Homo sapiens: one gene and its partners. The protein of the gene in region 4 interacts with the protein of the main gene of each other region in a pairwise test. Each region holds a gene or a part of one and is shown on either strand. Other genes may lie near its edges.

Region 1 (6,543 bases), on a different chromosome or scaffold from region 4:
CAAGCCACCTGAGGCAGAGTTATTCATCCCAGCAAGGAAGTCAACTGGGAGGCTTCCCCTGAAAGGGACACCGATGTCTGGGTTCCCTGGGCACCTTCCCACCAACACTAGATCAGTTGACAAAAGGTGGTCTCTCCGCTAGAGTAGAAGGAATCAAAGTCACTAGGTTATTTGGACAAAACCAGCAGAAACTGCAGGGAAAACAAGCCCAACAGCGGATTTCCTGAAGCCCTCATTCCTCCCCCATTCCGAGGAAGAAATCTACAAGTATAGAGGGAAAAAATAAAAACTTTCAAATTTTAGCAACAAATGGCTTTGGTGCGTTTGCATTCTCGCCAGTCTTCAAGGAGTAGATAATTTTTATGCTTCATAAACAGTTACAGAGCACAACAGGAAGAAAGACCTGCCAGTTTTGTTTCCAAATCCGGTTTACCTCTGATACTGGCCCCATCTCTGTCACCTTGCACTGCTGGCTCTATGCCACCTGCAGACTCTCGCGGCCTCTCTCTCCCTCTCTCACGCAGCACCCCTCACAAAATCTGGGACTTGGCACTCTCGGTCCCCCACAGGGATCAGCATTTGGATGAGAAAATACCAGGCTCGAGCTGCTCTTAACCACGTTTATTGAGAGGGGCCGGGGGAAGGGGATGGACGGTCCTCCCCGCGGCGGGGTTTTCAGCCCTCGCGGGTGGGCAGCGTCTTGTCCTCAGGTGTAGATGCTCCAGTCTCGGCTCAGCCAAACACTGTCAGGGCCCCCTGGAAAGCAGAAGCCGAGCTTGAGTGCCCCCAGCCCTGCCACCAAGAACTCAGGCGGGGGCGCGGCAGCGGCCGGCTCTGTGGGGAGCGGGAGCGGGGCGGTTCCGCTGGCGTCTCCGGGGGACGCGCACCCGCGCGGGGCCATCTCCGCCTTCCCCGCCCCTGCAGCTCGGATGCGCCCCACCCAGTTCCCACCCGGAGACCCGGGCTTCTCCCAGGGACAGGGCTTGGAGGGGCAGGACGGGAAACAGCCCTGACGTAGGGCCGGGACACCTCTGGTGCAGTTTTGAGGCTGGCCGGGAAGGGATGCCCGCGCAGGAAGGGCACCCGGGGTGCCCACTTTACCAGCAGGGCCTTCAGGGCCTTCACGGCCCCCACGGCCTGGGGACCCAGCTCAGCCACACACTTCTGGGAGCCCTCTATGAGGTGGTTCACGGGGATGCCCAGGCTGCTCAGCAGGAGCTTCAGCGGGTTGAGGGTGCCGAGGGGGTTGGCCAGGGTCCCGGCCCCGGCCTCCGCCGCCGACTCCAGCGCAGCGACAGGCTGGGCCACAGGCTTGGCCGAGCCCACTAAGAAAGCAGCAGCTGCAAGCGAACAGGGAGGGGTCACCGCCTGCGCGCCGGGGTCCCCAGAAGGCAGGTCCAGGACGCGCCCCCGCGGGAGGCGCCCAGGAACCGTCGCGCCCTGCCCGGCTCCCCGACCGCCCCTCCCTCCTGCGCCGAGGCCTGCCAGGTGCGAGCCCCCGGGACACAGGCGGGTCTGGGGAGGCGGCCCCGCCAGGAGACGCTGCAGGGTCACCGGAGTGGCCTGAGGGTGGCGGAAGGACCGGTGAACTCTGTGCAGGGTCCGGGACAGGCCCCCAAGGGAGGGGACACTCGCGCTGCGCCTTGCAGGATGAGGAGCCGGTCTCCAGACGGGGGGCAGACGGGTGTCCCCAGGCCAGGGGCGGCCTCCATCCCGGCACGAGGCTGGAGACAGCCCTGAGAGGGGGAGGCCGCGGGCTGCAGGCGCGGGGCCCCGGGGTGGCGGAGCCCTCTGGGCGCCGGGCGAGGCTGGAAGGACCTGGGATCCACGATCGGCGCAGGCAGCGGCGGGGGCGCAGCGGGCGCCGAGGCCTCAGGCCCCACCGTGCGCGCCAGGAGCCCGGGGCGCTCACCGGAGCTGCAGGACAGGGCCACGCAGAGCCCCAGGAGGGCGGCGAGCTTCATGGCGCGGGGGCTCGGGGCGCGCGGGGAACCTGCGGCTGCCCGGGCAAGGCCACGAGGCTTCTTATACCCGGTCCTCGCCCCTCCAGCGCCGGCCTCGCCCGCGCTCCTGAGAAAGCCCTGCCCGCTCCGCTCACGGCCGTGCCCTGGCCAACTTCCTGCTGCGGCCGGCGGGCCCTGGGAAGCCCGTGCCCCCTTCCCTGCCCGGGCCTCGAGGACTTCCTCTTGGCAGGCGCTGGGGCCCTCTGAGAGCAGGCAGGCCCGGCCTTTGTCTCCGCGAGGCCCACCCCGGCCCGCACCTTCGCTTTGCGGTCTGACCCCACGCGCCCCCCTGCAGGGCTGGGCCCGGGTGAGGGGAGCTTCCCTCGCGCCAGGGCAGGGGCGGGGGCGGCGCAGTTCCTGGCTCCCTGGTCCCTGCCTCTGATCCCAGACCGTGGCAACGTCGGGCACTGGGGGTCCTCGTGGGCGCCTTCTGCGCCTGGGGAGGTGGAGGCGCCAGGGACGATCAGGCCTCACTCCCGGCCGCCTCCCCGGCCGGGCCACAGGCAGCCACAGTGCAAACAGAAGTGGGGCGTTTTTCTGTCTTCGAAACTAGCCTCGACGCCAGTGGATGGGCCTGGTTTGTTCCTGAGTTTCTCTAAATGTCCTCACTCGTCTGTCACCTGCAGAAGTATGACAGATGGAGAGCAAAGCACATTTTGAAAACTTTTGCAAATGATACATAAACTAATTTGCTTTTAGTCCTTCTTCTTTCCTCTATTTTTTGACCCCAGGCATTGAGCACTGAGTGACTCACGTTTTGCTGCGTGGCTGCTCTCAGCTAGGTTGGTGCAAAGTCTCTCTTTTCTTTTGTAAAGTGTAGCTGGCACGCGTGGGAAACAGGCTCCCGGGTGGGAGGACCTGACTCTTCAGGCAGTGTCCTGGAATTCCTTCCCTATGGCTGACAGCACGTCTTAGCCCTCAGCCACCCCGAGCTACTGCGGCCTCCTCCGCACCTGCAGACACTTGTGCCTTTGCCAACTGTTGTGGCCAGGCACACGCATTCACACTGTTTCTGTTCACTTACACTTTTCCTTGACTATTTTGTTTGGGGGATTTTTGCATTATAAATCTGGAGTTTGGTTGTGTTTTGTTGGTCATCATGGAAGTAATTTTAATGGGAAATACGTTTTCTTTTTTAAAAACAGTTTGAAGTTAATTACTTTTTTGGTGGTGGTAAAGACACTGTCTTGCCGTGTTGCCCAGGCTGGTCTCGAACTCCTGAGCTCAAGCAATCCTCCCACCTCAGACTCCCAAGTAGCTGGGACTAGAGGTGTGAGCCACCACACTCAGCGGATTTTGATTTTGTTTTTTGTTTGTTTGTTTTTTGAGACAGTCTCACTCTGTCGCCCAGGCTGGAGTGTAGTGAGGTGATCTTGGTTCACTGCAGCCTCCACCTCCCAGGCTCAAGCAATTCTCCCACCTCAGCCTCCCAAGCAGGTGGGGCTATAGGTGTGCACCACTATGTCCAGCTAATTTTGTTTATTTTTTGTAGAGACAAAGTCTCACTGTGTTGCCCAGACTGGTCTTGAACTCTTAGCCTCAAGTGATACTCTTGCCTCAGCCTCCCAAAGTGCTGGGATTACAGGTGTGAGCCACCACGCCTGGCTTGATTTATTTTTATTTTTTCTAGAGATGGGGTCTCGCTACATTGACCAAGCTGGTCTCAAAATCCTGGCCTGAAGCAATCCTCCCGCCTCAGACTCCCAAGGTGCTGTGATGACACGTGTGAGCCACCCCGCACAGCCCAGCTTCACCATCTTAAGGGCACACTCCATTAGCATTAAGTATATTCTAATGTTGTGCAAACATCACCACAATCCATTTCCAGAACTCTTTTCCTCTTATAAAACTGAAACTCTGAGCCTATTAAACAACTCCCCACTCCCCTCCCCAAGCCCTTGGCACCACCATTCCACTTTCTGTCTCTGAATCTGGCCACTCCCGGCACCTCATATGAGTGGAATCGGGCAGTGTTTGTCTTTTGTGTCTGGCGTATTTCACTTAGCATGATATCCTCCAGGTTCATTCATGACCTTCAGAGTTTCCTTCCTTCTTAGGGTAGGATACTGCTCCATTGCATGGCTGTGCCACGTTTTCTTCACCCATTCACTTCACCCGTGGGTGGACATGTGGGCGCTTGCATGTTTTCACTGCTGTGAGTAATGCGGCCGTGAACACGGCTGTGCAAATGCCTCTTTGGGACCCTGCTGTTGGCTGTTTTGGGTGGCTGCTCAGAGGTAGAATGGCTGGAGCCTGTGGAACTTGCCTGTGTCATTTGTGAGGATCTGCCATCTCTCCCATAGCAGCGGCACCACGCTGCCTTCCCAGCAACAATGCACAAGGATCCCAGTGTGTCCACAACCTCATGATGCTTGTTCTTCTCCTGAGCAGGATCTGGCAGCCTTGGCCCAAGCAATCCCAGTGGGCGCATCTTGGGAGCTGACTTTGGGGCCACCTTTCCCCATGCTGCCTGGGGACCAGAGAACACTGACCGCGGGAAAGACCGATGCTGCCGAGGCCAGGAGGAGGGGGAGGCCGTCATCTGTGGGTCCCCAGCAGCGCTTGGGGTCCTGGCCACTCCAGCGGCCCCTTGCACCTGCCTCCAGGGATCCTTTGTCTTCAAAATAACCTCCCTCCACCTTCCGGCTCATAGTGCCTTGGGTGGATCTGTTCCCATTTCCCACAAGCCTGCAGGGTGGTGACAGGCCCTCATTCCCATGTGCCCCAAGATTTCGGATTCCAAAAATACATCCCCTGGCTCCCCGGAGAAGTGTGTCACGGTGTCTCCGTTTCACCACTGACAGGGCCAAAGGATGTGCTCTCCTCTCCCGAGCTGCCATGGTCAAGGCAAGCCAGGACTCACCTCAGGCTGGCCCAGCCCCTCACCCCACACTGGCTCTGGGGGCCACGGCTGGCGAAGCCTCTGCGGTAGTTGGGGATCAGGCAGGCCGAGGGTCTGGCCTGTGCCGAGACCTGCACAGCTGGGTCAGCGGCTGCCTCTGTATTCATTTCCTGAGGCTGCTGTGACAAGTCACCACATACCTGGTGGCTGAAAACAACACATTTACTCCGCTCGCAGTTCTGGAGCCCAGAAGTGCAGTGTCACGGGGGTGAAGGCGAGGCGTCGGGGGCCGCTCCTCCTCCAGAGGCTGGGCCTTCCCAGGAGCTTATCCACTCCTGGCCTCTCCCTGCTTATGGGGGCTGCCAGGGCCCCTTGGCTGGTGACTGCATCACTCCAGTCTCTGCCTCCTGGTCACATGGCCTCCTCCTCTTCTGTGTGTGTGGGTGTGTGTGTGAGGGTGCGTGGGGTGTGTGTGTGAGGGTTTGTCGGTGTGTGGGTGTGTGTGGGTGTGTGGGTGTGTGTGGGGGTGTGTGTGGGTGTGTGAGGGTTCGTGTGTGGGTGTGTGGGAGTGAGAGGGTATGGGTGTGTGTGAGGGTGTGTGAGGGTATGTGTGGGTGTGTGAGTGTGTGTGGGGTGTGTGTGAGGGTGTGTATGTGTGGGTGTGTATGTGGGTGTGTGTGAGGGTTCATGTGTGGGTGTGTGTGGGTGTGGGGATGTGTGGGGGTGTGTGTGTGGAGGGGTGAGAGTGAATATGCATGCAAGTGTGTAAGATGGACAGTGAATGAGAATGTGCATGTGAAGGAGAGTGAGTGGGTGTGAGCTTGTGGGTGTGTTTGAGTGTGAATGTGTGTACAAGTGTGTGTGTGGATAAGCGTGAGTCAGTCTGTGTGGGAGGGAGAGTGTGGGAGGGAGTGTGTGGGAGGGAGTGTGTGGATATGCATGTGTTTGAATTGTGTGCAAGTGTGTGTGAATGTGTGTGTGAGTGTGGGTGTGTGTGAGTGTGAAAATTCTGCCGCCATCTTATGAGTGTGTGTGTTGTTGCATTTAGGGCTCACCTAGATAACCCAGGACAGTCCCCTCATCTCACAATGACGCCCCCAGTCGGGCTGCCGAGACCGTGCCTGCTGAGCCTAACATTCCAAGGTTCCAGGAGCTGGGGTGTGGACGGACCTGGGGCCTGCCATGCCCTCCAAGTGCTGCCCTGCCCCTTGAAGGCCAGGCCAGGTGAGGCTTCCAGGGTGGGTGTCAGAGTCCGCCCGGCATGGGACAGGGGCGGGTGGGCAGCGCCCTCTCGTCAGCCTGGGCCTTCCCTGCCACTCCTGCTTGCGGCCCTTGCTGGCTCAGGTCTGCCGAGACACTGAGAAAGTGCTTGGCGCTGTCTGCAGACGACACGGTCAGCTTGTTCTGGGCAGTGTTTGCAGGGCATCTTTTGGGCCAAAATAAACACGCACACCTTGCCCACTCCCACGGAATGCAGGAAGAGCTGGAAGGTAAACAAGCACTTTGCGGCTCTGGGGAAGGGGCCAGATATTGAATTTGGGGCCTATTGAAAGACCTCAGGGCCTCGGAGCAGGGTACTCAGCCCCTGGGTGCTCCTGCTGGGGAGCCTAGAGGCTCACGGTGCCTCCGCCCGGCCCACGCTTTGGCGGTGCTTCCGCAGACACCTGTGGAGGGCTGTTCAGGTGGCAGATGCCCACT
Region 2 (7,020 bases), on a different chromosome or scaffold from region 4:
AGCTCGTTTGAGGGGGAGAACGGAAGCTGGCGCAGGAAGGCTGTGTGGATTCCCCAAGGCCTGATGATACTCTAGATCATCCCTAACCATATAGGCAGAGTGCAGAATATAATCCCACTTTGAAAATGGATAACACTATATTAAGGGTATTGTTTCTTGGGAAAATCCACAATGCTTACTCTGAAACTTTTAACTCAAGAATGTCAAAGCCACACTGGTATGCAGGTACCTTCTCCTCTTAAAAATATAGATGAGGCCAGGCGCAGCGGCTCACACCTGTGATCCCAGAACTTTGGGAGGCCTAGGCGGGTGGATCACCTGAGGTTAGGAGTTCATGACGAGCCTGGCCAACATGGCAAAGCCCCATCTCTACTAAAAACACAAAAGTTAGCCGGGTGTGGTGGCGTGCACCTGTAGTCCCAGCTACTTGGGAGGCTGAGGTAGAAGAATCACTTGAACCCAGGAGGCGGAGGTTGCAGTGAGCCAAGATCGTGCCACTGCACTCCAGCCTGGGCAACAAGAGTGAGACTGCATCTCAAAAAAAAAAAGTATATATATATATATACTTTTTCTCATATATATATATATATGAGAGAGAGAGAGAGAGAGGAGTATTTTGGTATCAAGCACCACATGAAGATGTTTCAAAACTTGAACCGCCTAATGTAGTGCGCATGTTAAGCAGACTTTAAAAGAGATCCTGGCCGGGTGCGGTGTCTCATGCCTATAATCCCATCACTTTGGGAGGCTGAGCTGGGTGGATCACCTGAGGTCAGGAGTTCGAGACCAGCCTGGCTAACATGGTGAAACCCCATCCCTACTAAAAATACAAAAATTAGCTGGGCATGGTGGCGGGCACCTGTAATCCCAGCAACTCGGGAGGCTGAGGCAGGAGAATCGCTTGAACCAGGCAGGCAGAGGTTGCAGTGAGCCAAGATCATGCCACAGCACTCCAGCCTGGGCGACAGAGTGAGACTCTGTCTCCAAAAAAAAAGAAAAAAAGAGAGAGTGATCCTAAGTAATCATTCATACCTATCTTCACAAAATATGGTCAATTCTGGGTTTGGGGGGCTGATATTTGAGATTATATATAGAACTAAATTGTTTCACTCACGACATAGAATCATCCAAACTGCATGTACACACAAATGGCTTTATGCAAAGGCCCTGACAGAACGATATTTAGTTTTTCAGATTAGGTACATAGGGCCAACCAGCCCACCCTGTACATTCCAGCAAGTGCAAGAGCAGCAACTTTCCTATTTCAATACAATTATGGGCAGAAATTATATGATGTAAAATAGAGGCCCTTCCATAAAGTTAAGATTTAGGGTAGAAGAAGGGAAGATAAAACCAAAATTCCCATGAAGTCAAAATTAGACAGTGGTCTTGTACTCTGCTGAACCCTGTGATGAACTGTAGTCCTCAAACTCATGGACTCGGATCCAGGTTCACCAAGACACTTCAGTATGCTTCCAACTGTTTCATCATCATCTTCCTGCTGTATTCGTAGGCCACAAACAGTGCCCCATTGGCAGGGATTGCTCGAATCATAGTAGCTTTCAGTCCAGAATATAAGGCTACTATTCCTTCATTTCTCACAACACTTAAGAGGGTACCAATAAATCCTGCCTGTTTCCCATACATGGAAAGAACTTGAATTCTGGATTTAATACAATCCACTGGGAACACGACAAGCCACAGGCAAATTCCAGCAACTCCACCACTTAACATCAAATGGACAGGGCCTAGTTCATCTTTTGATCTCCCTGACGCAAAAAACGATCGGCTCAGTTCATAGCCACCAAAGAAAAAGAAATAACCCGGTACTTCTTGAAGTAGAGTACTCGAGAGTCCATGGTAGAAGCCCAAGGGGCCATCCTTTTTAAGGATACCCTTCACGACAGACCAAATTGTATTATGGCTTTTTGCTATCTTCCCTGACATCTCCATTTCATACATGGTCTGTAGCCGGCACTTCACAAGCTCAGTGGGGCAGAGAGCCAGTGCAGCAAATGCAGAGGCGAAGGACCCCGCGGCTGCAGTCTGGAGATCACTCAGCTTTGCCTGCTTGTCCATTCCAGCCACTTTCCTGACAAACTGCTGGCAGAACCCGTAGCACATGAAGAGGACCGAGTTTTCGGCGACGTAGGCCATAAGTGCCGGGCCGGTGCCCTTGTAGAAGCCCCGGAGACCCACTTGAGCGTATGTCTTCAGGAAGCAGTCGGTGAGGCCCTTGTACAGGTCAGGGAACGTCTGCATCTTCACTTTTATTGTGTCGAAGGGCTGCCCAGTCAGTACACACGCTGTCCCCCCTGCGGCCCCCGCTGTGAGGTCGATGGCGGCTTGGATGCCAGGACCGGACTTCATGTTCGCTCACTCGTCTGAGGGTCCCAGTGGAAGGCGACTAACTCCCCAGAGCGTGAGACCGGCTTTTCACGTCCAGCCGCAGCGAGCGCGGGGAATGGAGTTGGGGGTGGTGGGGTGGCTCTACCGCCTGTTCTGGGCTCTCACCCCAGTGCGGGGGAAGCCGCTCAACCCTACGCTCCGCCGCGGGCCGCCCCCTCCCCGCGCACTAAAATAACCCCCAGCTGCCGGCCCAGCGCGCGGCTCACTAGCGTTCCTGCGGCTCCTGGCGCACTGGCCGGGCCCCCAGCCGCCTCCAGCCTGGAGCCGCCATCCCTGCACCCGCAGGCGGGGGACGCGGACCGAATAAATACTTTTAGTGTACTGCGACTGGGCGCGGTGGCTCACTCCTGTATCCCAGCACTTTGGGAGGCCGAGGCGGGAGGATCGCTTGAGCCCAGGAGATCGAGACCAGCCTGGGCAATATGGCAAGACTCCATTTCTACAAAAACGAAAAAATACCCGGGCGCGATGGCGCGCGCCTGTGGTCCCAGCAATTCAGGAGAATGAAGCGAGGATCGCTTGAACCCGGGAGGTCGATGCTGCAGTGAGCTATGATCGCACACTGCACTCCAGGGTGGGCGAAAGGGTGAGGCTCTGTCTCAAAACAAAACCAAAACCAAGAAAACATGTAAAGCTTTTCGATAAATTCTTGCAATTATGGCCGGGAACTCTAGACGCCGCAGTTCAGCTGGCGGCAAAAGAAATGCTGTCCTAATCAGTCAGCCCTGCTTCTTTTCTTTTCTCTCTTTTTTTTTTTTTTGACTTAGGGTCTCACTCGGCCGCCTAAGCTGGAGTTCAGTGGCGCGATCCTGGCTCACTGCAGCCCCAATCTCCTGGCCTCAGGCGATCCTCTCACCTCAGCCTCCTGAGTAGCTGAGACTAGAGGGACTACAGGCGCAAGCCACCACATCTGGCTAAATTTTGTATTGTACAGACGGGGTTTCGCCATGTTGCCCAGGCTAGTCTCGAACTCCTGAACTCAAGCAATCCACCCACTGGCCTCCCAAAGTGTTGGGGCTTACAAGCATGAACCACCACACCCGGCCTATCCCACGCTTCTTACCATGCAAAAAACAAAAACAAACAACCCGAAAAGAAGATGCCCTCACTTGAATAGACCCTGAATTCAGAGGGTCAATCTACAAGAAAACTGCTTTAAAGTAGATAAGACAGGCCAGGTGTGGTGGCTCATGCCTGTAATCCCAACACTTGGAGAGGCTGCGGAGGGAGGCTCATTTGAGCCTAGGAGTTCAAGGCTAGCTTGGGCAGCAAAATGAGACACCCCTTACCCCCTACAAAAAATAAAGTAGAGAAGACAAACTGTCAGAGGCGCTGGAACCACAGCAACTCCATCTTGACTAGGGACTGAGTAAAATAAGGCCGAGACCTACTGGACTGCATTCCCAGGAAGACAGGCATTCTAAGTCACAGGATGAGATAGGAGGCCGGCACAAGATACGGGTCACAAAGACCTTGCTGATAAAACAGGTTTCAGTAAAGAAGCCAGCCAAATCCCACCAGAATCAAGATGGCATAATAAGTGACCTCTGGTCGTCCTTACTGCTCATTATACGCCAATTATAATGCATTAGCATGCTAAAAGACACGCCCACCAGCGCCGTGTCCACTTACAGATGCCATGGCAACAATAAGAAGTGACCCTATGTGGTCTAAAAAGGGGGAGGAATCCTCAGTTCCGGTAACTTTGGACCCCTTTCCCAGAAACCTCATGAATAATCCACCCCTTGTTTAGCTTACATTCAATAAAAAACTGTAAGTATCCTTAGTCAAGCCGCCCAGGCCACTGCTGTGCCTATGGAGTAGCCATTCTTTTGCTTCTTTACTTCTCTAATAAACTTGCTTTCACTTGACTCTATGAACTTGCCCCAAATTATTTCTTGCATGAGATCCAAGAACAATCTCTTGGGTCTGGATCGGGACCCCTGTCCGGTAACGAAACGATCTGAGGGTTGCTACATGAGAGACAGTGACTGCTTTTGATCAGAAAACCCTCAGCGATCTGCCCACGCTCCTCACTTTCCTGGGGGGCAAGGAGGGGAGTAGGGCACTGTGGGAATCCTTAGCCCTGGAGATGTGCTACTGCTTTCCTGCAGAGCTGGAGAAATGCTATCACATGGCAACATCCCCAAGGATCTGGGGTTGCAGCCCTGGGAACTGGTGGAACGTGGAGTCCTTATCATTTCTGAAGATAGAACACGGCACTATAAAATCAACTTGGAAAATGGATAGTATTTATATACTGCATTGCTAAGAAACTTGATAGAAAAGAGCTGGGTGGCTCAGCACTATGCTTTCTAAGTTTTGAGATTCTCTTTGAGGACCCACACAGCCTCATGCAGAAGTAGAAATTTGTCGTTTGTACACTGTTGGTGGGAATGTAAAATAGTTCAACCCCTATGGAAAGCAGTATGGAGATTTCTCAAAGAACTAAAAATAGAACACCCATTCAACCCAGCAATCCCACTATTAGGTATCTACCCAAAGGAAAAGAAATCATTTTATCAAAAAGACACCTGTGCTGGGGACAGTGACTTACACCTGTAATCCCAGAATTTTGGGAGCCCAAGCCAGGTAGATCGCTTGAGCCCAGGAGCTCCAGACCAGCCTGGACAACATGGCAAAATGCCATCTCTACAAAAAAATACAAAAAGTAGCCATGCATGATGGCATGCCCCTGTAGTGGCAGCTACACAGGAGGCGGAGATGGGAGGATTGACTGAGCTGAGTTGGAGGCTGCAGTGAGTTATGATCCAGCCTGGGTGGCAAAACAAGACCCTGTCTCCAAAAAAAAAACCAGAAAACATCTACACTCATATGTTTATGGAAGCACTATTCACAACAGGAAAGTCACAGAATCAATGTAAGTGTTCATCAATAGTTGATTGGATAAAGAAAATGTGGTATATGTATACCACGGAATACTATGCAGCCATAAAAAAGAATGAAATTATGTCCCTCACAACATGGATGGAGCTGGGGGCTGTTATTCTAGGTGAAATATCTTAGAACCAGAAAATCAAATACTGCATGTTCTCACTTATATAAGTGGGAGCTAAACAATGGGTACACAAAGACATAAAGATGGGAATAACAGACACTGGGGAATCCAAAAGTGGGGAGGGTGGGAGGGATTGAGGGTTGAAAACCTACCTGTTGGGTACTACATTCACTATGTGGGTGACGGGTTCACTAGAAGCCCAAACCTCAGCGTTACACAACATACCCATGTAACACACCTGCACATGTACTCCTTGAATCTAAAATGAAATTCAATTTAAAAAGAAGTAGAAGTTCGGGATACAAATGACATGTCTAGCTTTCAAAGCAAGATGTTTTTTGGACATTAGTGAGGATACCACTGTCAGGACACACTTCTTCCTCCCAGATATTTATAATCCCAGCATTGGAATGAATTCTCTCCAGGCTTACATTCCAAGCCGTCGTCGGCCATGGGTAGTAAAAACAAAATCTGGGGGGAAGAAAGTATGCTGAAAGCATTCTCTTTCATTTAGAAAACTTTCCTTGTCTAATTATCCTTGGCTGTCAATTAAAAGTGAGGTACTTCAGAACAAAGGTCTCTGAGAAAATTTAAAAAAAAATTTTTTAATGAGGTACTAAAAAGCAAATTGTGCATGGATAATTTGTCACCAGGTAGTCTTCACTGTAGTAAATAGTAATCTGGGCTTTTCTTTGGGAAATGCCCAAATGTCAGCAGTTGCAGTTCTTTTCTCTGGTACCACATAGTTTCCTCAGAGAATGCTCTATGAGCTTTGACTGTGTGTGTGCAGGGTGTGGTGGGGGAGAGGTAGGTTATAAACCTAGATACTGATTTAAAGAGAACAAGAGAGGGGAAGAGGGATGACACACCTGGAGTAAATATACAGACTTTCACATAATTTTTTCCTTATTTGACACTGTGCCTACTTTCTCTGAGTTTGGGCCTTCTTTGGTTCAATTTATCCAGAAAATAAAATTTCCATCTTCTGTGGGATGGAAAGAGTTATCTGGCTTCATAGAGTGGGATAGAGATCCTGGACACCCAACAACTCTGAACACAGACTTTAATGAATCTCACATCTCTAACCCTACACCTTCCCACCTTCCCTGGAATCTTCTGCTTGCAAAAATTTTGCATCTTACAAGGCTCTGTCAAGTGGGTTTGTCTCTCTTTGGTATAACTACTTGCAGACATTTAGCATGTAACTTTTTCTGATCTATGAATTCATTTATCATTTCTCTGTTTTGGCCTTCAGATAATGGGTTGACATCTCTCATCCACTGTTGTCTCATTTCCTATTCTCTTTGTCCTTAGAAGTTAACATCTTTTAAAAATCCTTTCTGTTGTTTTATTTAGCAGCCTCTTAGGTAAAGCAGAAAGGATGAGAACAATCTGCAATTTGAAAATAGAAAACTTCATTAGGATTTTTAAATCCTTCATGTCATATTTGAGGAATTTTTTTCTATGTTTTGATTTCACTTTCAGGAAAGGGAACGGGGGAAAAGGGTTTTGTTTTGGTTTGTCTTGCTCTGCTGCCCAGGCCAGAATGCAGTGGCACAATCATGGCTCACTGTAACCTCAACCTCTCAGGC
Region 3 (7,792 bases), on a different chromosome or scaffold from region 4:
TGGAGAGGAAACCTGGTTTGAATCTTATCTGTCACTGTCACTGGTTAAAAATTAAGTACCTTGTGCAAATACATTTTAGTGATGGGCCTCCGAGAGGGAATCATTGAGAATGGTTTAAGGCATGATCTTTTCCTTAAAAGACTTGGGTTATAAATATGAAAAAATAACTGAAAAGTAACAAAAAGGTTTGCTTTTTTTTTTTTAAGAGATAGGGTCTCACCATGTTGTCCAGGCTGGTCTCAAACTCCTGAACTCAAAGTGATCCTCCCACCTCAGCCTCCCGAAGTACTGGGATTATAGATGTGAGCCACTATGCCTGGCTGCTTTTATCTAGAAAAGATGCATATACCCTACAACAATTCTATATATGTATACATACTAGGAAAACTCCTGCACATGTATAAACAATATAGATGTACAAGAATACAGCATACAACATTGTTTGTAATAATCCTAAGCTGGAAACAACTCCAGTGGCTACAAATAGTAGGATGGATAAAATATGTTCTGTGTGGCCGGGTGTGGTGGCTCATGCCTGTAATCCCAGCACTTTGGGAGGCAGAGGCCAGTGGATCACGAGGTCAGGAATTTGAGACCAGCCTGACCAACATGGTAAAACCCCGTCTCTACCAAAAATACAAAAATTAGCTGGGCATGGTGGCACGTGCCTGTAATCCCAGCTACTTAGGAGGCTGAGGCAGGAGAATAGCTTGAACCTGGGAGGCAAAGGTTGCAGTGAGACGAGATTGCGCTACTGCACTCCATCCTGGGCAACAGAGCAAGACTCCGTCTCAAAAAAAAAAAAAAGTTCCATGCAATAGCCATGCAAGAGAACACTATATAGCAATGCAAATGAACAAACTGTAGCTACGCTCAACAACGCAGATGAAGCCAGGTGCAGTGGCTCATGCCTGTAATCCTAGCAGTTTGGTAGGCTGAAGCAGGCAGATCACCAGAGGTCAGGAGTTCAAGACCAGTCTGTCCAACATGGTGAAACCCCGTCTCTACTAAACATACAAAAAAAAATTAGCCAGGTATGGTGGTGAGCACCTGTAATCCCAGCTATTCGGGAGGCTGAGGCAGTAGAATTGCTTGAATCCAAGAGGCAGAGGTTGCAGTGAGCCAAGATTGCGCTACTGTACTGCATCCTGGGCAACAGAGCAAGGCTCCATCTCAGAAAAAATAAAATACAAAAAATTAACTGGGCATGGTGGCACATGCCTATAGTCTTAACTGCTTGGGAGGCTAAGGCATGAGAACTGCTTGAACCTGGGAGGCAGAGGTTGCAGTGAGCCAAGATAGCACCACTGCACTCCAGTCTGGGTGACAGAGCGAGACTCTGTCTCCAGATAAACAAAAGCAATGCAGATGAATTTCTCAAATGTTGTGTTAAATAGAAGAAGCTAACCACAAAATAATGTATGCAGTATGTTTTCATTTATATAAAATTCAAAAGGGATGTGCATGTTTGAGGTAGAACACCGAAGACAACAAGGGCATGGTTTTCTTTTTTTTTTTTTTTTTTTTTGAGACGGAGTCTCGCTCTGTCCCCCAGGCTGGAGTGCAGTGGCGCGATCTCGGCTCACTGCAAGCTCCGCCTCCCGGGTTCACGCCATTCTCCTGCTTCAGCCTCCCGAGTAGCTGGGACTACAGGCGCCCACCACCACACCCGGCTAGGTTTTTTTGTATTTTTTAGTAGAGATGGGGTTTCACCGTGTTAGCCAGGATGGTCTCAATCTCCTGACCTCGTGATCCACCCGCCTCGGCCTCCCAAAGTGCTGAGATTACAGGCTTGAGCCACCGCGCCCAGCAAGGGCATGGTTTTCTCAAAAGTTAGGAGAGTGATTACCTGGGGTGGGGGAGAACAGAGTGGGGGAGAGCCCTGCTGAGAGGTGGCTGTGTTCTCTTTGTTGACCTAGGTGATAGTCACATGAATGTTTGCTTTGTATTTTTTAAACTGAATATATGTTTTATGTACATATGTTGTATCTCGCAATTTAAAAAAATAAAGAGGACAGATCACCTACCCCTAGTGGGTACATAAGATGACAACCAGGTGATGGGCGATGCTTCAACATGGGGGTGGTGGGGTCAGGGCTGGATGGTCGCAGTTGGGTCCAGGACCTTCTGCCTGAGGTGTTCTGCCCCCTGATCTCTGCAGGGCTGGGCTCTCTCCTCAGAGAGGCCTTCCCTGACCACCCTGTCTAAAAGTAGCTCCCACTGCTCAGTTTTGTCTTAGTTTTTTATTTTATTTATTTTTAATTTAGAAAAAATACAGAAAAAATTAGCTGTGCATGGTGGCGGGCGCTTGTAATCCCAGCTATTTGGGAGGCTGTGGCAGGAGAATCACTTGAACCCGGGAGGCGGAGGTTGCAGTGAGCCGAGAGCACATCATTGCACTCCCGCCTGGGCAACAAGAGCAAAACTGTCTCAAAAAAAAGAAAAAAGAAAAAATACAGAAAAGTCCAGAGAACAAAATATAAAAGCCTTTTTAAATTTTTTGATGTATAGTTTTGTGATTTTTTTTTTATATATAGTTTTGTGATATTTGCTTTAAATGCTTTCTGTCAACAAAATACTAAAGCACCACAGTTAGGGTTGGAGTTCCCATTGGAATCCTTTCAGTCCCATCTTCCTCTTTCCTCAGAAGTAATAATTGTCATTTGGTGTGGGTTTTTTTTTTTTCTGGCACATACTTTTATGAAACATATACCTCAGTTCCTCAAGTCTAAGCTGCCATCAATTGTAAAATGAATTCTAATTTCAGAGTTTTCAAGGGTTAAAAAATATACATTTTAGAATCTATGAAATATGGTATCTATAAGCAGTATGTATTATTTTGCACATTTTACATTTTTGGCATAAATGTTGTACAAATCATTCTGCAGCACACATCATTCTCTCATCATATCGTTTTGGGGGAATACCATTGATGACACATAAAGTTCTGGTTCATTCTTGTTGTATTTTCTCTGTAGCACTTATCCCTCTCTGAAATGTTGTTTATTGTCTTCTCCTGGCTGTACCTAACCCCAACCAGAATGCCAGCTCTCTGAGAGCCAGGAGCTGTGTATCTCATTTCCTGCTGAGTCTCCCGTGTGTAGTACGGTGCCTGTCTGACACACGACACCTGCCAAGTCAGTGAGGAGAGAAGTTAGGGTTTGAGGTGGCTCAGCAGTGAAAGGAGAGTGGATGCAATCACTGACTGTGTAAGTGAAAAGAGAGAGGAGAGAGAGTCAGCACTGAGAGTTGCTTCTGCTTCAGAAAGGAAAGCAGAAAGGAGGCAGGAGAGGAACTGTTCAGGAACTGGAAGGAGTCAAGGATGGGCCCAGGAAGCAGAGGCAGGAAGAATCTTGAGGGACAGGGAGAATGCTGAGTAGTACAGTTGAAGAGAATGAGGATAGAAGAGTCAGGAATTCAGTGAGGAAGTAATTATGGGCAGGAGTCGGAGACTCTGAAGCCAGATGGCAAGGGGCTAGAATATACAGAAAAGAGGCAGAAAGCAAACATTGGAGAAGAATGGCAGTGAAAAATAGAGAAATTTGATATTCGCAAGGGAGAATAGTATTATATGATAGTGTTTAATAGTGTCATTTAATAGGTTATATGACAGTGTTTAAAGACTGAGGAAGAGGAACATTCTGGAAGATGGTAGGTTAAGGATTGTCTATAAAGACACAAACTGCAGAAGCTAGGGAGAAGAAGCGTCCTGTAGCCAGTTGCTGGATTTGGAGGAAGGGGGTTGGCTCACATCTATTTCTCCGCATCCTATGCCCTCAGTTCCTTTTTCTTTCACTTTTTCTTACAGGGCCTTCTTCTAGCCCATCTCCAATTCTTTTCCTAAAACCTAGGCTTTCTGCTTCCCAGTTTTCCTAGCACTGTTTCCTGTCCTTTTTCTACCAGGCATTGGCCGCTGGACCAACCCCCAGTACCGGCAGTTCATCACCATCTTGGAAGCAACACATCGGAACCAGTCTTCAGAAAACAAGGTGAGAGGCCCTAGGAAAAGTGCCACACAGGCACCCAATAGCAGCTTTCTCAGTTGTCCCTCAGAGCACCAGACACTGGCTTCTGCAGGAAGAGGAGGTGTGTTTTACCACCCACCACACTGGGTGTTTGCTTGCACATTGCTGTATCCCTTCTCACCTCCATTAGTGAACTGTCCACCTGAGGAATTTTTCCTCCCTACCACTTCTAATGGAATATTCTGCTAGAACAATCTTCCCCCTCCCTCACCTGTAAGAACTGGCTAAACTAGAAACATTCCACAATGTTTCTTTTTTCTTTTTCTTTTTTTTTTTTTGAGATGGAGTTTCGCTCTTGTTGCCCAGGCTGGAGTGCAATGGCACGATCTCGGCTCACTGCACTCTCCACCTCCCAGGTTCAAGTGATTCTCCTGTCTCAGCTTCCTGAGTAGCTAGGATTACAGGCACGCACCACCCACACCCTCTAATTTTTGTATTTTTTGTAGAGACGGGGTTTCACCATGTTGGCTAGGCTGGTCTCCAACTCATGACCTCAGGCGATCTGCCTGCCCCAGCCTCCCAAAGTGCTGGGATTACAGGCGTGAGCCACCACTCCTGGCCTCTTTTTTTTTTTTTCTTCTTTGAGACAGAGTCTCACTCTTACTCAGGCTGGAGTATAGTGGTACAATCTCAGTTTACTACAACCTCCAACTCCCGGGTTCAAACAATGCTCATGCCTCAGCCTCCTGAGTAGCTGGAATTACAGGTGCACACCACCACGCCCAGTTAATTTTTTTTTTTTTTTTTTGAGACGGAGTCTCACTCTGTCGCCCAGGCTGGAGTGCAGTGGCGCCATCTCAGCTTACTGCAAGCTCGGCCTCCCGGGTTCATGCCATTGTCCTGCCTCAGCCCCCTGAGTAGCTGGGACTACAGGCGCCTGCCACCACGCCCGGCTAATTTTTTTATTTTTAGTAGAGACGGGGTTTCACCATGTTAGCCAGGATGGTCTTGATCTCCTGACCTTGTGATCCGCCTGCCTCGGCCTCCCAAAGTGCTGGGATTACAGGCGTGAGCCACCGTGCCTGGCCAATTTTTGTATTTTTAGCAGAGACAGGGTTTCATCATGTTGGCCAGGCTAGTCTTGAACTCCTGACTGCAGACGATCTGCCTGCCTTGGCCTTCCAAAGTGCTGGGATTATAGGTGTGAGCCACTGTGCCTGGCCCACAGTGTTTCTTTTTTTTTCTTTTGAGATGGAGTTTCGCTCTTGTTGCCCAGGCTGGCGTGCAATGGCATGATTCCAGCTCACTGCAACCTCCGCCTCCTGGGTTCAAGCGATTCTCCTGCCTCAGCCTCCCAAGTAGCTGGGATTACAGGCATGCGCCACCACGCCCAGCTAATATTGTATTTTTAGTAGAGATGGGGTTTAGCTGTGTTGGTCAGGCTGGTCTCAAACTCCTGACCTCAGGTGATCCACCTGCCTTGGCCTCCCAAAGTGCTGGGATTACAGGTGTGAGCCACTGCACCCAGCCCACAATGTTTCTTAGAAGGTAGTTTTCTCTGTATCACAGCAGCTCAGTTCTATAAATGTTTAATTTTGTTGTATGCATTGAATACCATGCTATCCTTGTTTGTGGATGGGACAAGGTGGACAGGTGTGTCCACTCCTATGCCTGGGAGTACAGCATGGTGCCAGGAGGGAGAAAAGCTAGGGCTCAGTGTCTTGGGAATTATGCCAAGCCGGCTGGTGCTGGACTGTGATTATCTTTGAGGATGGGCTTTGGGGCCCCATAGAGCTCTTTTCTGTTATGGGAGGTTTCTAGGATCAAACAGCTATGACCACCATCATCACATTCCTGGCTACTCCACACTATGGAGCTGCGTAATGATGCCCTGTACTATGCTACTGGCTGAAGCATTTGGCACACACCCTTTCTGATCCTCACAACAGCTGAGTGAGGTGGCATTATTACCTTTATTTGTAAATGTGAGAAAACAGAGGCAAAAAGAGGTTAAGTGACCCATTCGGAGTCATAGAGCAAGAAAGTGGCTAAGTCCAGATTTGAGAGCAGGTCTGAGCAAAGCCTGCCTGAAATTTGCTTTTAGTCATCTTGTTTTGTTTTGCCATTTACCTTTTTGTATAATTTTTCTATTGCTCTCTGTTAGTCAAATTATTTTTGAAATGTCAAAAAATTTCTGTGCAGAAAATAAAAACCCTCAAAATAGAGTGCTAGGAGCTCAGGGGGTGGGGGACGAATATAGTCAAGTATTAAGACACAGCTAGGCCGGGCGCGGTGGCTCACACCTGTAATCCCAGCACTTTGGAAGGCCGAGGCGGGTGGATCACGAGGTCAGGAGATCAAGACCATCCTGGCTAACATGGTGAAACCCCATCTCTGCTAAAGGTACAAAAATTAGCCGGGCATGGTGGTGGCAGGCACCTGTAGTCCCAGCTACTTGGAGGCTGAGGCGGGAGAATGGCGTGAAGCCGGGAGGCAGAGCTTGCAGTGATCCGAGATCGTGCCACTGCACTCCAGCCTGGGCGACAGAGTGAGACTCCATCTCAAAAAAAAAAAAAAAAAAAAAGACACAGCTCCCACTGCCGTCAAAAAACGTGGAGCTGGTGAGGTGGTTCATGCCTATAATCCCAGCACTTTCGGAAGCCAAGGCAGGAGGATCGCTTCAGCCCAGGAGTTGGAGACCAGCCTGGGCAACATAGTAAGACCTTGTCTCTAAAGAAAATTTTAAAAATTAGCTGGGCATGGTAGCACATGTCTGTAGTCCCAGCTACTCCAGAGGCTAAGGTAGGAGGATCACTTGGGCCTGGGAGTTTGAGGCTGCAGTGAGCTATGATTGCACCAACTGCATTCCAGCCTGGGCAACAGCACGAGACCCTGCCTCAAAAAAAAAAAAAAAGGCATGTGGACTGGCTCAGTGGGGTGGCCCGAGGTTCGGATGGGCTGTAGGGCAACACTGATCCATGGCTGCAGGAGTTGAGGAAGGGATGTAGTTGTGAGGATGGAAGTCAGAGCTTCCTTCAACGGGTGGCCCCACATGGCAGAGGAGCCCACTGTGGGCGTGACTTCCCTCCTCTCTGTCTCACTCAACCTTGGGTCTGTCAGTGTGATCTGCTGGGAGATTTCTAAGCTTCTAAGACAGCACCCTATAAGGGACCCAGGTGGGGAATAGACCGTGACCAGCCAGCGACCCCTACTACCCGTCACTCAAAAGCACTAGCACCTTCAGCCACTCCTCCTGGGGATGGGTCAGACTTAGTTTTTTAGAAAAGCAGAGTGTTAGGTTCTTAGCTTGGAAGAGGGCAGACAGGCCAGTCCTGATACCTGATGGGGCATACCATCTCCCCTGATTTTCTGGTCCTGTTAGAATTTTCCATCTGAGAATTGGGAGGGTATTGACCTCCGCTTGGTTTCCCCATGATGTGTGGGGATCAGACCCCTGGATAACGAAGGTGTTGTTGAGGGTGGGTAGGAGAGCCTCCCCTGAGTTCTCAGTACCCCTTTGCCTCTCGTGCCCACTGCAGAGGCAGCTTGCCAACTACAACTTTGACTTCCGGAGCTGGCCAGTCGACTTCCACTGGGAAGAACCCAGCAGCCGGTGAGGCCCCAGTTCTTTTGCTGTATCTCTCCCCTTAGAACCATTCCAGAAAATCTCTGCTCTGCCCTCCCACCTCCATGCCCTCTCAGGTCACAGTGCCTGCCTTCCAATGCCATTATGTCGTTCCTAGACCCCACTGTTCTCCAGACCTCAGACATCCAGCTTGCTGCTCCTGACCCTATCCTTCCCTGCATCTTTCCCTTCCTCAGGAAGG
Region 4 (8,077 bases):
GCTAGGAAGGATACAGGCCAGCCCGATGGACAGCCCGCAGACATTACTGAGGAAAGAGGTCTGGGGAATGAGCCACGAGGCACCCAGCAGGAGCCACGGAACCAGGACTGAGGGCACAACCATGCCAAACACCAGGGCCCGCCTCATCCGAGAACGGACGGTGGTGACTCCCAGCATGGCAAAGGCCACTGGGGTGAAACCTCTGGCATCCTCCACTTCCCCCAGCTTTGACAGTGATGACACAGCCTCGAATGACAGGAAGATGATAGCGGAGAAGATGGCGAAGATCACGGTGAAGAAGCAGTGGCGGACGGTGCCCACGGTTCTCTCGAAATTGCCAGCAAAGCGCCAGATGATGATAGCGCCGCAGAGCAGGGAGATGGGATTCTCGTAGACAAAGATGTAGGTTACCAGCCTGTAAACTGCAGAGGGAGTCGGGTTAGAGGCCTGGCGGCGGGTTGCTCCCAGGAGGGAAGCCAGGTTATAAGCCGCCTAGGAAAGGCAGAGAGCCCCCCTCCGTGACAGAGAAGTGAGAGCCAGTGAGTCGCAGCAGGAGGCAATACAAGCAGTGCGTTCAACAATGAAGGACCCAGAGCCTCAAAGGAGAGGCATGAATATCTAATCCCTACACTTCCCCAGGCCTGGTGCAACTCTTAGCGGTAACTGACTTCCAGAGGGAAAAAAATAATACTTTTCGGTAGAGGGCAGTCTCTGAATTTGTAAAGTGCTTTATAATCCTTTTTCAGGTTTTCATACTGACCTACCTCACTGGGCAGTTTGAGGGTTAATTAAGTGTAACAGCTTCGGGGTGGATTGAGTGGGTGTCACTTAACACTCTGTGTGCCAGTCTCCTCTGCTGTAATCCTGACCCCTCCTTCCATAGTGGCTGTTCAGAGGAAGAAAAAAGGGACCATGAATTATTTTGCAGCTGTAAGAATTATAACACTATCATTAACAATAAAGATTATAGAAATTATAAGTCTCCTCAGAAAGTGCTTATCCGATCTCACAGGTAAACTGATGCTTTATATGTAATAAGACATCAAAGAATCCTCCTTTTCCTTTTTTTAAATTTTTATTTGTAGAGACAAAGTCTTGCTACGTTGCCCAGGCTAGCCTTGAACTCCTGGCCTCCAGTGATCCTCCTGCCTTGAATTCCCAAAGTGCTGAAACTACACATACGAACCATCATTCCTGGCCTTTTATTTTTCTAAAAGCAGTTATCGCCAGGCATGGTGGCTCACACCTGTAATCCCAGCATTTTGGGAGGCTTAGGTGGAAGGATCACTTGAGCCCAGGAGTTCAAGACCAGCCTAGGTAACATAGTGAGACCCCCGTCTTTAAAAAAAATTTAAAAATTAGTCAGGTGTGATGATGTGTACTTGTAGTCCCAGCTACTTGGGAGGCTGAGGCAGGAGGCTCGCTTGATTCCAGGAGTTGAACGCTGCAGTGAGCTATGATTGCATCTCTGCACTCCAGCCTGGGTAAGACGAAGACCCTATCTCTAAAAAAATTTTAGAAGTGGTTATCTCTTAAGTATTTTTATGTCCCTGCATGCCCAAATACGACTAAACTCAAGGAGAGAGACCAAAGAACTGATGGTAATATTGGACTTGGGAGTCTAAAGACTTGGAGTGGAATCTTGGCTCTATTACATCCAGGCTGGCTGAGTTTAATCATGTCACAGGTCCTCTAGGCGTCAGTTTCCTCACTGTAAAGTAACAAGAGTTAGATTGAGGACTTCAAAGGTCCCTTACGTCTCTAACGCTCACATATCCACGAAACCCACACCCAGGGAAGCAGTGAACCCCAGAAAGTGGGAGGTTAAGGTTAGGTTGGCATTTTGCTTCTGTCTGTGAGGTGGTGCTATGTATACCTAGGGTGGGGGGAACAGTTTTAGATTGGAGTGGGGAAGCAGGCTATGGAACCATATACCTCAGTCTGGCCATCACCAGAGGCTTCATTATCTGAAGAGTACTTCATTATTTGTTGAGTATTTCCAAAACTGAAATTCCAAGTATAAACATGAAAAGATTCTAGAAGCAACTGTACATGATTTGGAGATTATCTACCCGAAGGCTCTAGTTCCAAAACATCACAGAATAAAAAAAAAAATATAGATTCCTATCTCAATTGCATGACGCAACAGCTCTGCGATTCTCTGCATGAAACCTCAATCTTATCTAGATAACGGGCCAATAACAGGTCCTACGTCATGGGATCCTTGTGAGGGTTAAACGAAATTAATACATATCAGTGTGTGTGCTTTGCAAAACAGCAGGAGATATGCAAATTTCCTGTGTTCCTCTCGAGAAAATGAGGAAGACACGGAGACTAGGAATGTCTTTCAGGAATGGATGTTTATACTTAATTGGTCTGCAAAATTTCTCTCCCCTAGAGAAAAACAAACACTTCTCTCCAAAGGCAGAAGACACCCTGGTACCCCCATGAGCTGGGAATGGCAGTCAAGATTAAGATACAGATGAAAAAGCAGAAGAAATTCCAAATCTCAAGAGGGCAGGACGTTTATAGGGCTTATAGGGGTTTGTGGATAAAGTCCAATTGTCGTGATGTAGGTGAGAGAAAAACGTTTTTCAGTGGGGCTTAGGCCTAAAGCAGACGTAGGTGTGTATGTGAAATGGGAGGGGGAGACGAAAAATCTTTACCCTTGGAGAGCGAGCATGGATTTGCTAGCGAATGGATTTGGGGCCTTAACCAGTCTGGTGGCGACAGGGAAGGGAACAAATTCGGGTAGGGAAGGGATTACAGTGATGACGAAGATGGGGTCTGCAGACAAAGGTGTGGAACACGGAGAGCAAGAGACGGTGCTGGAGGTCGGTCCTCCGGGGGGCGGGCATGGTGATGAGGACCGAGACAGGGGGAGACTGGCGGTGAGGCCTGAAGGGGCGAGTCCCGGAGGCTAGAGCCCAGGAACCGGCAAAGTCGGAGGACAAGGACTCGCCCCGCGATCCCGGCCCGCCCCTGCTCACCTTGCCAGTTGCGAAGGGCCTCGGACTTCAGCGTGAGGCCCGAGGGCGCCAGGGGCTGCTGCAGCAGGAACAGGCGAGGCCCGGAAACCAGCAGCGAGAGCAGCGCAGTGAAGAAGGTGGCGGATGGCACCTCGGGACACAAGCACCAGCTGCGACACCCGGGCCCCGAGGCCGCCATGGCCGCCGTCGTTCCCGCGCCCCGCCTCGACGCCGGCTGCCGGTCCTCTGCTCCTTCCGCCTCCTCGCGGCAGTTTCCCTTGGCAACAGCAGAGGAGCCGGCCGGAGGCCACGCCTCCCAGAGGCCCCGCCCCATGCCAAGTTGTCCAATCCGGTAGCGCCGATCAGCCCCCCCCCCCCCCCCCCCCGTGCGTGGGAGGCCGGGACGGGGGGAGGGGGGTCGGGGCCACTTCCGGGTAGGAATGTTCCAGCACCGTGTTTGATTCCATCCTACTCGGGCTGGTACTGAAACTGCTCCTATAAACTTTAGGAAATTAATCAGGGAAGAAGGGAGGGGGAAAAACGAAAATAAACGAAGCTTGCAGCACACTCTGCGTTCATCACTAGGTCACCTTGCTCTCCGACCTGCTTGCTCATAGCTCTGTGTATCAGCTATGATAGGTGCCCATCGTCTGTCCTAGAATCACGTAGACCCTGTCACAAGATTACAATTCCCCTTAACTCCATAGATAACAACTTGAACATTATGAAACGTTTTCCCTTGGAGATATTCTTTCAGGTCCCGCATACCAGCATAATTACTGACACCAGTTGTTCTGAAGGAGCCCACAGAAGCAAGACTCAATGGGGACTGCAGTTTCCATATCCTGAGGATTTCAACCCCCTTACCCTGACCAGTCGATGACCCCAATTTTCCAGCCCCTCACCCTTCACAATGCCCTTTAAAATCCCAGCCCGGAACTCCTTGGGGAAGATGGATTTGTTGGTCTCCCTGCGTCTCCTCCTAGGCACCCTGCCATCTTTAAACCCTTTTTCTGCTGATAACCCTGCTTCCTCAGTGTAACTGGTCTGTTATTGCACAGCGGGCCTAGGCACCTGTTGGTCCTGTAATAATACCTCATGATTATTATGCCTTACAGCTCACAGAACTCTTTCATATCACGATCTTCCCATCTGTATTCATCCCTATTACACCAAAGAGGAAACAGGACTAGGGAGGGCCCTGGGTAATTCAGTTACATGGCAAAGACAGAATTAGAACTCAGTTCCTCCTGCTATGGCCCGGAATTGGCCTCCAGTACAGCCAGGGGCAGCTTTATCTTCATATTGAAGAAAAGGGGCAGGAGGCTGGGCACGGTGGCTCACGCCTGCAATCCCAGCACTTTGGGAGGCCGAGGCGGGCGGATCACGAGGTCAAGAATTAGAGACCAGCCTGGCCAACATGGTGAAACCCCGTCTCTAATAAAACTACAAAAATTAACCCGGCATGGTGGCGCGTGCCTGTAATCCCAGCTACTCCGGAGGCTGAGGCAGGAGAATCGCTTGAACCCAGGAGGCGGAGGTTGCAGCAAGCCGAGATCGCACCACTGCGCTCCAGCCTGGGTGACAGAGCAAGACTGTATCTCGGAAAAAAAAAAAAGGAAAAGGGACAGGAAACGGGAGAGGGATTCAATGGAAGGGACTCAAAAGTTAGGGATGTAATAGAACACTCATAACCGAGATCTATTTCAGCACTTTACAGTTTGAAAAGTGCTTTTGCTGGAGAACAGCTGTTTAAGGTAGACCTTCCTTTTTTTTTGACAAGAGTCTCACTCTGTCACCCAGGCTGGAGTGCAGTGGCGTGATCTCTGCTCACTGCCACCTCTGCCACCCAGATGCAAGTGATTCTTGTGCCTCAGCCTCCCGAGTCCCAAGTAGCTGGGACTACAGGTGTGCATCACCACGCCCAGCTAATTTTTGCATTTTTAGTAGATATGGGATTTCACCACATTGGCCAGGCTGGTCTCGAACTCCTGACCTCAGGTGATAAGCCTGCCTTGACCTCTCAAAGTCCTGGAATTACAGACATGAGCCACTGTGCCCAGCAGTACCTTCAAGGGTACTACCTTTTTCGCTTTCTCCAGTGACCCTGCCCAGTACTCCCTCCCCTCACATGGTAGAAGTATTTGGCTCCTTCCCCACACACCCACCCTAGTGTTATCAGCTCCTTGCCCTTGGCTGCAGGCTTTGGTTTGACTCAGCTGTAACTGCTGCCCCCCATAGCTTAGAAGCTCCTGCTGGCTCTGAAGGAAGGAGGCTAAATTTTGGGGCTTGTGTGTCCTGCTTCAGTAGCACAATCATAGCTCACTGCAGCCTTGACCTCCCGGGCTCATGGTATCCTCCTGCCTCAGCCTCCCAAGTAGCTGGAACCACAGGTGCGTGCTACCGCACCTAGCTAGCTGCTTCTTTTTTGTAGAGATGGGATCTTGCTCTGTTGCCCAGGCTGGTCTTGAACTCCTGGGCTTAGGCAATCGTCCCGCCTTGGCCTCCCAAAGTGCTGGGATGACAGGTGTGAGCCACCATGCCTAGCCTGTTGTGTGCTTTTTATGTAGTTACTCATTACATTTTCACAACCCTTGTGAGGCTGGTTCTGTAATTACGCCCGTTTTACAGATGAAGCAATGGAGATACAGAGAAGTTAAGTAACTTAAAATTAGGCAACAAGTCTTCCAGGAATTTTTTTTTTTTTTTTTTGAGACGAAGTCTTGCTCTGTCACCCAGGCTGGAGTGCAGTGCTGTAATGTCTGTTCACTGTAACCTCCTCCTCCCTGGTTCAAGCAGTTCGCTGCCTCAGCCTCCTGAGGCACTTCCCATATTATACTATCATTGCATATTTGTGCCCGTAATTGTGAGCTTACCAAGGGCAGAAGCCATGTCTGATTTATACCTGTGTCTGTATCCACAGCCCTGGCACCTAGCACACAGTGGGGCCACAGAAAATGTTCAATGCAAAGTTATTAGCCCTGATGCCTTTGGGATGTGACCTACTTCCCTTCCTTGTCTCTTGTCCAGAAGCCGAGGGTTCTCACGTAATTGAGACCCCTGGGGACTGTTATAACAACAGCCACCATCCCGAATGCATTTCACACTGAATTTCTGGCAAGAATTTCAAGATATTTTTTGAAGAGGAGACCTGAGGTACACCAGTCTAGGATGGCATGGCCAGTCAGCCCACCTAGCTCTCTGTAGAAAGAGTTTTCTGCATTTGCTGTGCAGAGGGTTTAGGCTCGGAGAGGGCAGTTGCAGGAGATATTCACGTTTCCCTTAAGGGAAACCTAGGATTGCAGGTGTGAGACACTGCACTTTTTTTTTTTTTTTTTGAGACTGAGTTTCGCTTTTGTTCCCCAGGTTGGAGTGCAATGGTGTGATCTTGGCTCACCGCAACCTCCGCCTCCCCGGTTCAAGCGATTCTCCTGACTCAGCGTCCCGAGTAGCTAGGATTACAGGCATGCGCTAGCATGCCCGGTTAATTTTGCATTTTTAGCAGAAACGGGGTTTCACCATGATGGTCAGGCTGGTCTCGAACTCCCGATCTCAGGTGATCCGCCTGAGATCTCAGCCTCCCAAAATGCTGGGATTACAGGCTTGAGCCACCACGCCCAGCCCACTGGGCCTTTTTGTTGTTGTTGTTTGTACAGACAGAGGTCTCACTATGTTGCCCAGGCTGGTCTCAAACTCTTGGGCTCAAGTGATCCTCGTGCCTGGGCCTCCCAAAGTGTTGGGATTCCAGGCATGAGCCAAGCCAAAAACCAGGAGATAAATACCATGTTATACTGGCCATTTCCTTTAATGTTCCCTTAAAGGAGACATTAATGGCTCCTACATTAGCATTTGAGAAGCAGCCAGTGTGGAGCTGGTGGAGCTCAGGCTGGAAGTCAGGAGGAAGCAGGACCTCACCCTGGCTCTTTCACTCGCTGCCTGAGTGATCTTGGGTAAGGGAGCCTCAGTTTCCTCATCTATAAAATGGGAACTAAGTCTTATCTTGCAGGGTTTTGATGAAGAAAACAGATAAGATTGACCGAGGGACGAATAGGATGTGAGGAGGTCACACTGTGAGTTAGTGGAAGAGCTAGGATTTGAACTTGGGTCATTAGATCTCTAAAGTTGTTCTATTTCTTTTTATTTTTTTGAGACAGAGTCTTACTCTGTCGCCCAGGCTGGAGTGCAGTGGCGTGATCTTGGCTCACTGCAACCTCCACCTCCCAGGTTCAAGTGATTCTCCTGCCTTAGCCTCCCCAGTAGCTGGGATTACAGGCACATGCCACCACGCCCTGCTAATTTTTGTATTTTTAGTAGAGACAGGGTTTCGCCATGTTGGCCAGGCTGCTCTCAAACTCCTGGCCTCAAGTGATCCATCTGCCTTGGCCTCCCAAAGTGCTGGGATTATAGGCGTGCGCCACTGCACCTGGCCAAGTTGTTCTATTTCTTTTTTTTTTTTGAGACGGAGTCTCGCTCTGTCGCCCAGGCTGGAGTGCAGTGGTGCGACCTTGGCTCACTACAAACTCTACCTTCCGAGTTCACGCCATTCTCCTGCCTCAGCCTCCCGAGTAGCTGGGACTACAGGCGCCCGCCACCACGTCTGGCTAATTTTTTTGTATTTTCAGTAAAGACGGGGTTTCACCATGTTAGCCAGGATGGTCTCGATCTCCTGACCTCATGATCCACCTGCCTTGGCCTTCCAAAGTGCTGGGATTACAGGCGTGAGCCCCTGTGCCCAGCCAGGTTGTTCTATTTCTACCACTACACACATCTCTACCATGGCAAGTATAACACGGTATTTACTTCCTGGTTTTTGGCCAGTCACAGCAGCTCACGCCTGTCATCCCAGCACTTTGGGAGGCCCAGGCAGGAGGATCACTTGAGCCCAAGAGTTTGAGACCAGCCTGGGCAACATAGTGAGACCCCTGTCTGTACAAACAAACAAACAAACAAACAAACAAACAAAAAAGAAAGGCTGGGTGCAGTGGCTCACACCTGTCATCCCAGCACTTTGGGAGGCCAAAGCAGGAGGATTGCTTGAGCCCACAAGTTAGAGACTAGCCTTTGGACAACATAGTGAGACCCCCATTTCTATTATATTTAAAAAAATA

What was found.
Region 1: the proteins of RHBDD2 (region 4) and SCGB3A1 interact in binary tests that used the Homo sapiens proteins (3 or more experiments, as listed by UniProt).
Region 2: the proteins of RHBDD2 (region 4) and SLC25A2 interact in binary tests that used the Homo sapiens proteins (3 or more experiments, as listed by UniProt).
Region 3: the proteins of RHBDD2 (region 4) and ABHD16A interact in binary tests that used the Homo sapiens proteins (3 or more experiments, as listed by UniProt).

Annotation. Positions count from the first base shown.
Region 1 is NC_000005.10:180,589,499-180,596,041, forward strand, and holds SCGB3A1 (secretoglobin family 3A member 1 precursor), read right to left. Parts: upstream 2,002-6,543; 5' UTR 1,965-2,001; coding exon 1,913-1,964; intron 1,341-1,912; coding exon 1,102-1,340; intron 757-1,101; coding exon 733-756; 3' UTR 607-732; downstream 1-606. UniProt on the Homo sapiens protein: Secreted cytokine-like protein. Inhibits cell growth in vitro.
Region 2 is NC_000005.10:141,301,496-141,308,515, forward strand, and holds SLC25A2 (mitochondrial ornithine transporter 2), read right to left. Parts: upstream 2,555-7,020; 5' UTR 2,371-2,554; coding exon 1,465-2,370; 3' UTR 1,140-1,464; downstream 1-1,139.
Region 3 is NC_000006.12:31,693,145-31,700,936, reverse strand, and holds part of ABHD16A (phosphatidylserine lipase ABHD16A), read left to right. Parts: intron 1-3,903; coding exon 3,904-3,989; intron 3,990-7,504; coding exon 7,505-7,578; intron 7,579-7,787; coding exon 7,788-7,792. UniProt on the Homo sapiens protein: Phosphatidylserine (PS) lipase that mediates the hydrolysis of phosphatidylserine to generate lysophosphatidylserine (LPS). LPS constitutes a class of signaling lipids that regulates immunological and neurological processes.
Region 4 is NC_000007.14:75,874,174-75,882,250, reverse strand, and holds the start of RHBDD2 (rhomboid domain-containing protein 2), read right to left. Parts: upstream 3,218-8,077; 5' UTR 3,169-3,217; coding exon 2,991-3,168; intron 2,006-2,990; exon of another isoform or gene 1,936-2,005; intron 887-1,935; exon of another isoform or gene 761-886; intron 423-760; coding exon 15-422; intron 1-14.